Linked DNA regions of Homo sapiens: region 2 is linked to region 1. The links come from fine-mapping of genetic effects on gene expression. A gene starts in region 1. The other region holds a variant in brackets. All regions are shown on one strand. Distances are from middle to middle.

Region 1 (4,510 bases):
GTTAACTAACGTTTTCTGTAAAGGGCCAGGCTGTAAATATTTCTTGTTTTTGCAGGCCATGCGGTCCCTCTTGAAATTCCTTATGTCTGTAGTTGTAGTGTGAAAGGAGACACAACCAAACAGGCCATGTCTGTGTGCCACTAAAACTTTCTTTACAAAAACATGTGATGAGGCAGATTTGACCTCTGGGTAGCGGTGTGCTCACCCCTGGTCTAGAAAATTTCTTGGCACATAGTATTTGACAAATAAATACTTTTAATTGAAGCAGTCTCTTCTCATCAACTGTTGCCTCCCAATCAATTCTCTCTCTCTCTTATTTTTTTTTAGATAGAGTCTTAGTGATCCTACTGCCTCAGCCTCCCAAAATGCTGCCATTATAGGTGTCAGCCACCAAGCCCGGCCTCTGAAGCTTTCAGTCTTAGGATAAAGATCAACTCCTGATTAAGGCCAACACACCTGCACAGTCTGGCCCCCACTCCATTGTGGCTTTACAGTCACTGCCAAGGACTAGAGGGACCACTCAGTGACTCGGATCAGAGAGGGGGTGCTTAAAGCCAACAGATGGTGCAGGCTCACTCACCCTCCCAAGCTTCCCAGGAGCGTTTCCTCGTACGCTGGAGGCACGGAGCTCTCCCCACCCTTTCTGGACTTCCTGACATATGCCAGCTCCTTCCCACCTTTGCACAAGTTGATTGCGACTGCGGTCACCAAACCATTGTTCCTGGCCCAGCCGTTGCCTGCAGTGGGCACCTGGGGCCTTTGCACATGCTGTTTCTCCTGCCTAAAACTCCACTCTCTCTCCCTTGCTCATCCTTCAGCTCAGTCACCTCCTCTAGGAGGTCTTCCCTGATCCCCTCGGCCAGGCGCCATTAAAGCACTCTTCTTCCTAGCACTGATTCTGGCTGTAATTTTACCTGCTTATGTGTTTCATTGATGAATGTCTGGTTCCCCTACTAGAGAAGCTTCATGGGGCACAAAGACCAAGCCTGTTTTGTTCTCCATCCTATTCCTAGAAACTATTTCAGTTAGCTAGCACATAGCAGTGACTGTGAATGAATGAATGAATAATGAATGAGCGAATGGTAAGGAACTGGAGCTTTGGAACCAGATAGATTCTGGGTTCAATACCCGACTCCACCACAGGGGCAAGTCCCCAACCTCCTAAAGCCTGTTTCTCACTGTAAAACTGGGATAATGGCAGGGCCCACCAGAAAGACTTTATTGAAGATAGAATGAGTTGAGGCCCAGAAAGTCTCAGCCCAGAGCCTGGCTCCAGGCAGGTACTGTCAATGTACTGACTGGAACAGTGACAGCTCGGAAATCCTGTCATGTGAGAAATAGTTTTAAAAAATCAGAATGCTTAGCCCCGGGGAAGTAAAGATCAAAGGTAGGGGATAAACCTCTTCCATTACCTGCATATGGACCCTTTCTTGATCCAGCTGTCTCAGAAAGCCATAAAGTCTCTGTCCCTATAGGTGTGCAAAAAGGAGCCGGGAGACCATGACTCGGGCACTGCAGACGGAGCTCCCGCAGGGGTGAGGGCGCCTAAGTGACCTCACGGGTCTCCTCCAACCCGGGGTCCTCCATTTCTAAGCACTTGGAGGCCTCTTGAGCTCTAGTGAGGGAGGAGGCGCAGATGGGAGCGCACGAGTCGGGTGGGCAAAGGCAGCTGGTTGGAGAGAAGCGTAGGCCAAGAGGCCCCAAGGACTAGAGGGACTGCTCAGCGACTCTGGGAGCAGAGAGGGGGCGCTTAAAGCCAACAGATGGCGCGGGCTCACCTAGGCCGAGCGCCCGCTCGCCCGCCCGGGCTTCCCGGGAGCGTTACCTCGCTCTGCCTGAGGCGCGGGGCGGACGAGACGCTGGGGGCCCCATCCCCCTGCGCGCCCCTCTGCGGGACGGCTGGCGGCCTGGCGGGGCACTGCTCTGTCTCGCACCTGGGGCCTCTTCCGCGGGCTTCCTCCCTGCCCCTTTGGGGGATTCGTAGAGTTGCCACAGCAGCCGGTGCCATGACATCGGCAGAGGGCAGCTTCGCCAGCACTGAAATATTCATGCCCTGAGCGCCCGGCGGGGCTCGGCGCCGCTCCCGGGGGTCCGGGCGGGGCCGGGCGGGAGCTCGGGGGTCCTGGCGGCCTGAGGGGTGGGGGAGCGCCGAGCGCGGGCGGGCGGGCGGGGGCCGGGCGAGGCGGGAGGTGAGGGAGGGAGCTGCGGGAGGCGGGGTCTGGACGGCGGGGGCCGAGCGGGGCGGGGGCCGAGCGGGGCGGGGGAAGCAAGGGAAAGTTGATCGCGGACTTGAGCGGCGGCGGCGGCTCGGGAGAGAGGGACGCGGGCTGCAGGCGCGATGCTTGGCTAGAGGACGCGTCCGACGGCGGCCGGACGCTGAGGTGGTCGGGGCTAGTCAGCCCGGCCTGGGCATGGAGCGCGGGGTGGCAGAGCCTCTGGACGTTTGGGGCGCGCCCAGTCCGAGCCCCCGGCGCGCCTGAAGTTGCGAGCGGCGAGCGGCGAGCGGCGAGCGGCCCGCGGAGACCCAGGAGCTGCCGGCACGCCGCGGATGAGCCTTCGCGCCGGCGGGAAGACGCGGCGGTGGCCAGGGCCAGAGCAGGCGGCCCGCGGGGGCCGATCCGGCGGAGAGCAGAGCCCGAGGCGAGGCGAGGCGCGGCGCCGCTGCACACACGCACACGGTACCCGGAGCCACGCACCGCCTCTTCCCTCCTCGCTTCCCTCTCCTTCCCCTCGCCGTTCGCCCGCCGCGCGGCGGGGAAGTTGGTGGTGACCGCGGCTGCCGAACCACTTGTTCCCAGCGCGGCCATCGCCCGTGGCGGGCGCTCGCGGCATCCTTCGGTCCCAGGCCCCTGGCCCTAGCCTCGCGCCCCGCTCCGAGCTCCCCGACGCGCGGCAACTTTGATTCCTGGGAACTCGAATTCCATTCGCGTTGGCCTTGGGAGGACAGGCATCCCATCCCCCATCCCCGGTCCTGGGACCGCGAACATTTGGGGGCTTTGCTCTCGGCGCTACGGAGAGGGTCCAGGTCTGGGGTGGAGAGATTTTCGAGAGTGGAGCGCGTTGGGATCCAATCCCCTCCCCTTCTGAGCCCTGGGTCCCCATTTGGACAGTGGGGATGGGGTGGGGCGCACCCCTACTGCGGGCTGGGCAGAGGCGCTGAGGGGAACTAAAGGCACGTAGTTCTCCCCTCCCCTCATCAAGTCCCTGTGCCCGCGGGAGACCCCAGGGGACTTACACATCCTCCCAAATTCGGTCCAGCTATGGGAAGACGCGCCCCTCGAGGAGCCGGGAGCCTTTTGCGGCTCTCGCTTCGCCTTCCTGGCCCTGGAACTGGTCCGCTACGAGCGGTGCTGGCTGCCCCCAGGAGCTGGCACCCGGGAGCACTGCCCCTCATCTCCACCGTAGGTCAGCCCAGGACTCGAGCAGAGCCCGCGTGTTCCAAGGCAGTGACGGCGCCAGCCGGCGGGGACTCTGCCTGGCTTTCTCGGAGCGGGCACCTAGAGAGGCTGCCTCCGTGCTGTGAGCGGAGATCCGATGCCAGCCGCCGCCCCACTGCGACCCCAGCCCCAGCCCTAGTGCTGTCAGCGGTCCACTGGGAGGAAATTAGCCTTTCCTCGGTAGTAATACTCCCCCATCCTCCCTAGTAATTCAGAAAGCAGAGCCTTCTTTTTCTACGTCCTTTGCCCTCTCAGACCAGAGCTGGCATTGACATTGACCTCGCCTTCCAGCCCCTTGGGAAGTGCCCCAACCCTAATTTGGATTTTGAAATAAGCTAGAGAGACACAGGAGTGTGTGTGTGTGTGTGTGTGTGTGTGTGTGTGTGTGTGTGTGTGTGTTGGGTGGAGTCAGACCCTCACACAGGGAAGAATTAGGTTGTGGGGTGTGGGGTGGGGCGGGCTTTAAGAACCTAGTTGGGGCCAGTTGCATGGTGATGATGAGTCAGCCCACGATGGGGAGAGCTGGCTTGGAGTTAGTGCTTGGTTCGTGGTGCAGGGGTAGGCGCACTGCGGTCAGCACCTACAGGGGTGGGGGCACTAGATGTTACTCTGCCAAGGAGGAGCTGGGAAGGGGCCCCTTGCCTGGGGGAATAGCAAGGCTTGGTTCTGGCTGCCAGGGCTGGGGAGGGCAGGAAGGCAGAGTGTCTCGTGGTAGAGGGTGGGTGTCCCCCGTGAGTTGGGAAGGTGGCACACAGAAGCCACTGGTGTGAACCAGGAAGCTCTGCCTCGAGTGCTGGAGGACAGCAGTGAGGGGTGGGAGGCCCAGAGCTAGCATCCTGGCCCCGTCTGTGCTGGGTCCGCATATACTTCTCAGACTTGGCCTTCCTCACCTCTAAACAGCTGGGCTCCTCACGTCTGCTTACCAAAGGGCTTGATTTGAGGGTTGTGATAGCAGATGGTCCTGGTTGCCTCTGGAATAGCTCCCCCACTCAACAAGCTACCTTACCTGCAGTTTCACCATTTGAGGTTCATTTATTTGAGCCAAGTATTTTAAAGGGCACCTTCCTGAAGTG
Region 2 (4,000 bases), 200 kb after region 1:
ATCCCCATTTCACAGATAAGGAAATTGAGGCTCAGAAAGGTAACATAACATGTAGGGTCATGCTAGGCCAAGAAGTGGCAGAGCCAGGATTCGAACCCAGGTCTGCATGAGTCTGAAGTCCTCAGGGACCACCCTCCTCATTGGATGGTCATGACAACCCTGTCATGTGCAGACCCTGCCTCTACTATTTCCATCACACAGATGGGTAAACTGAGGCTCAGGGAGCTCAGGAAACTCAAGGCCATATGGTTGGTAAAGTGATAGATACTGGCTGGCCCCTGATCCAGCCTTTATTCGGTCCACTGTACACAGACCCTTCCCTTCCACGCCAGGACCCCTCTCCCTCCAGTGTGGCAGCATGAGGGGTAACCAGGAGAGGAGCTGAGGGTAGGGTTGCTCTGGACAGACATGAGAAGCAGATGGGAATGGGTCACAAAGTTGTTGGATAGGTCACAAAGGGCCAAGTTGCAGAAAGTGCTGGAAGCCAGGTGGACTTGCCGTGTTGGGCAGGGGGGAGCACGTAGGATCTTACAGGAGGAGTGAAGTGCTGAACTGGCACTCCACAATGCCCCTTGCCCAGCCCGCCCCAGGGCCTGCCTCCCAGCCCCGGTCCCCACCTCCCCGCTGCCCGGCACTCCCTTCCTCCCTCCCAGGTTGGGGACATTGGGCCACTGAGGTCAGGTCTTTGTTTGAAGGACAGATAATTAATCCCACAAAGTAATCCCCAGCACACTCTGGCAGATTTATGGAGGTCGCCTCTGTCCTGGGAACTCTGCCTCATCATCTTTCATTTCCCAGGCAAAGTGACTGACTTGTTATATCATAGGCCCCACGCCAACAGGAATTTCATTTAGGGGAGTTCTCCAGGTGGAAGGAGATTGATAACCCAGGCCTGGGCAGGAACCGATGGCAGTCCTGGGGCCGGGAGGGTGGGGAGCAGAGCAGGCATCGCCACCTCCTCTGTCCCCTAGCTGGTCTCCGTCTTTCTCCCAACATGGGGCTGGTTTCATGGACCTCACCTGTCACAGGCCACAGGGACCCGGATATCATCCAGTTGAGCCTTTCCAAGCCCCAAGATGAGAAAGCAGAGGCCCAGAGCTTGAGAAAGGGACTGTTTCCCACCTGGCTCTTGGGGCTACTCTGCCCCAGCTGTCCTCACCATTACTTCTCCCTCCCCACTCCCCACCTCATCCGCCCTGAAGCTGCCACAGGTACAGGGCTGTCAAGGACAGGGGCAGGGGCTCCTCAGAGCCTGCTGTGGTGGTCCTTGGAACCTACCTCCCAAGGAGGCTCCTTTCAGTGCAGGAGGGCAGTAGGGATTGGCAGGACCTGGCAGCTCATCCACCAAGCAGTGAGGAAGGAGAGGTGTGGCCCTGGGGGTCAGGGTAGTTGCTTCTGGTCTATTGGCTCTGCCTTTAGCTTGCTAGACAGTTTAATGGCTACCATTGTCCACCTTTGCAATACAGGACTTTGGACTTATTTGATAATTCATAAATATTTATCAGGCACCTCTCGTACTCACTGCTGGGGATATGGCCATGAACAGGACAGACAAAACTGTCGCCCTCAGAGCCTCTCTTCTAACAGAGTGTGTACTCTGTTGTATCCATGATCCCGCCCCACCCCCACCCTCAAAGGC[G/A]GGGTAGGCCCAGGCTGTGGGCAACTGGGAAGGGAGGGGAGGGCCTGGCCATAGCACAGAGAGTAGGGGTTGGTGTGGCAATGTGTAGGCAGGCACCAGTACCAGCCTTGCCAACTTGGCAGCTCCACGTCGACAGGGACCAAGCATGGTGGGGCTGGCTCCTTCCTGAGGCTCCACCCGGCCTTTCGTAATTAAAGCCGTAAGTCATCTTCCGACGGGAGCCTGTAGGCTGGGGAGGCCACAGCTGACCTTGCTTGGGGTTTAGTGCTGGGAGGGAGAGTGAGTACATCTGGGCAGAGGTTTGTAGAGGGAGCTGAAGATCAAAGGCTGCCCTCTGTTCTGGCCTAGGCTGGGGACAGTGTTTGGGCTCTGAGGCTCTGCTTGGTGCCAGGAGCAGTGCCAAGAGCTTCCTCCACAAGCAAAGAGGTTACTTCCTCTTTTCTATGAGTGCTGAGTCTCAAGCTTGCAAACACCCCAAGTGACGCCATCTGTCTGTAGCAGGACCCTTTGCTCCGGGCCCTCTCCAGGAGGGCCTATGCCCAGAGTTTGGAGTGGGAGTGCTATAGGGTATCCACTGCTTTGGAGCACTTCCCAGAGAGCCTGCCTTCCCTCCTGCCGACAGACTAGGGGTCTGTAACCCAGAACAGCTGATGGGGAAGGAGGCAGGGCCAGGAACCCATGTAATTGAGAAGGACACCAGGCCACGCATCTGTAGGGTGGCCCAGTGGGAAAGACCCAAAAGTCGCTCCTGTGACTTCTCTTTTTCAAAAAAGCGGCCAGAGGCTTTGGAAAGATTTGGGTTGTGGAGCCTCCTCCCTGGTCGAAAAGGCAAGGACGTCTCTCTTTTTCCTGTTTCTCGCTTGCTCAGCAGAAGTTTCTGCCTGTGTGAGCCAAGGGATGGGAGCGTCTTGGGACATCCCTCCCTATCTGGCTGGGCTCATTCATCAAGCATTCTCTGAACGCCTACTTGGTGTGGGGCACTGGGCCAAGGGCTTGGGACATAATATGACATCTGGGGCTGAGCCTCCAGCTGGGAGGATGAGGGCATTCTGGAGGCAGGCTGCCGGGATGAAATGGCCAACCACCCACCCCACCCCACACTCCACCCCACATCCCAGCCCGGGACCCCTGGCCTTTGTCAGAGAAGCAGGGCCAAGTTCACTGGCAAATGTGAAATATTAAATATTTAGAAAAGTACAGAAACCAACACAGCACACCCCCATGTATTCACCACCCTGATAACATTTGTTGACATTTTGCCATATTTGCTTTGGATCTTTTTTGCTCTTCTTTTTGTTCTTGTTTAAGAAAGGGAACATTGCAGCTATTGTTGAAGGCACCTTTTCTTTGATTTCAATCATCTCAGAGGCCTGTTCTGTGAGCGCTGAGCAGAAAAGGTAAAAACCTCTGATCCTGACGTTGGCTTCAAAAATGGCATCCCTGACTTGAATGTGGACTGTGTCTTAGGTGACATTGAGGAATCATTTATTTTATTTAGGGTGAAAATGGCATGTTTTGTTGCATTTTTGAAAGTCCTTATGAGAGATGCATACAGTATGTAAAGATGAACTGGGATTTCCTCTGTTAACACCGTGAAAAATTGGTAGTGTTGTGGGGGGTGATTTTAAGATAAGATTGGCAAAATTTTGATGATTGTTGCATCTGGGTGATGGTACCGAGAGCTTCATTGTGCTCTTGTCTCTACATTTGTGTTTCTTTGAAATTTTCCATAGTAAAACTTTTATGTGTGGTCCCCAAAGCTTCTCAAAGCAGACCAGAGAGCCACATCTGACCTGTGGCCTGGACAGGAGTCCAGACTTGAGCCAGACTTCTGGTCCACCCATCTGGTGCCAGTTCTGCTTCTAACGTGCTGTGTGTTGTTGACCAAGTTACTTCTCATCTCTGATTCTCACTTCTCCAGGGGATGAAGGAAAAGTTGGAACCTGCTAGGCTTTAAGCATCTTTCCATTTTCCACCTCTGACACTTGACACATCTAACTTGTATGCTCAGAGACTCCACTGGAGGGAAACTGTGGGAATAGTCCCATTTACACCTTCAATGTCTTTCCTTTTTTTTTTTTTTTTTTTTTTTTTTGGTGAGACAGAGTTTCACTCTTGTTGCCCAGGCTGGAGTGCAATGATGCGATCTCGGCTTACTGCAACCTCCGCCTCCCAGGTTCAAGCAAATCTCCTGCCTCAGCCTCCCGAGCAGCTAAAATTACAGATGTGTGCTACTACACCCGGCTAATTTTGTACTTTTAGTAGAGACAGGGTTTTACCATGTTGGCCAGGCTGGTCTCAAACTCCTGACCTCAGTTGATCCACCTGCCTTGGCCTCCCAAAGTGCTGGGATTACAGGCG

The links. PIP is the estimated chance that this variant, and not a neighbour inherited with it, causes the effect.
Region 2: its variant is fine-mapped to the expression of CDH23 in caudate (GTEx, PIP 0.90).

What each region holds. Positions count from the first base shown.
Region 1 is chr10:71,394,641-71,399,150 of GRCh38, forward strand. CDH23 (cadherin related 23) reads left to right here and starts at 2,280. Exons shown (of 70, transcript NM_022124.6): 1 at 2,280-2,678. RefSeq lists a silencer at 1,799-1,888 and an enhancer at 2,572-3,083.
Region 2 is chr10:71,596,283-71,600,282 of GRCh38, forward strand. The region is part of intron 9 of CDH23 (cadherin related 23); the gene reads left to right. Among named protein-coding and RNA genes, the nearest start is that of CDH23-AS1, 86 kb to the left of the region's middle. The variant G/A (reference allele first, on the strand shown) is at 1,640.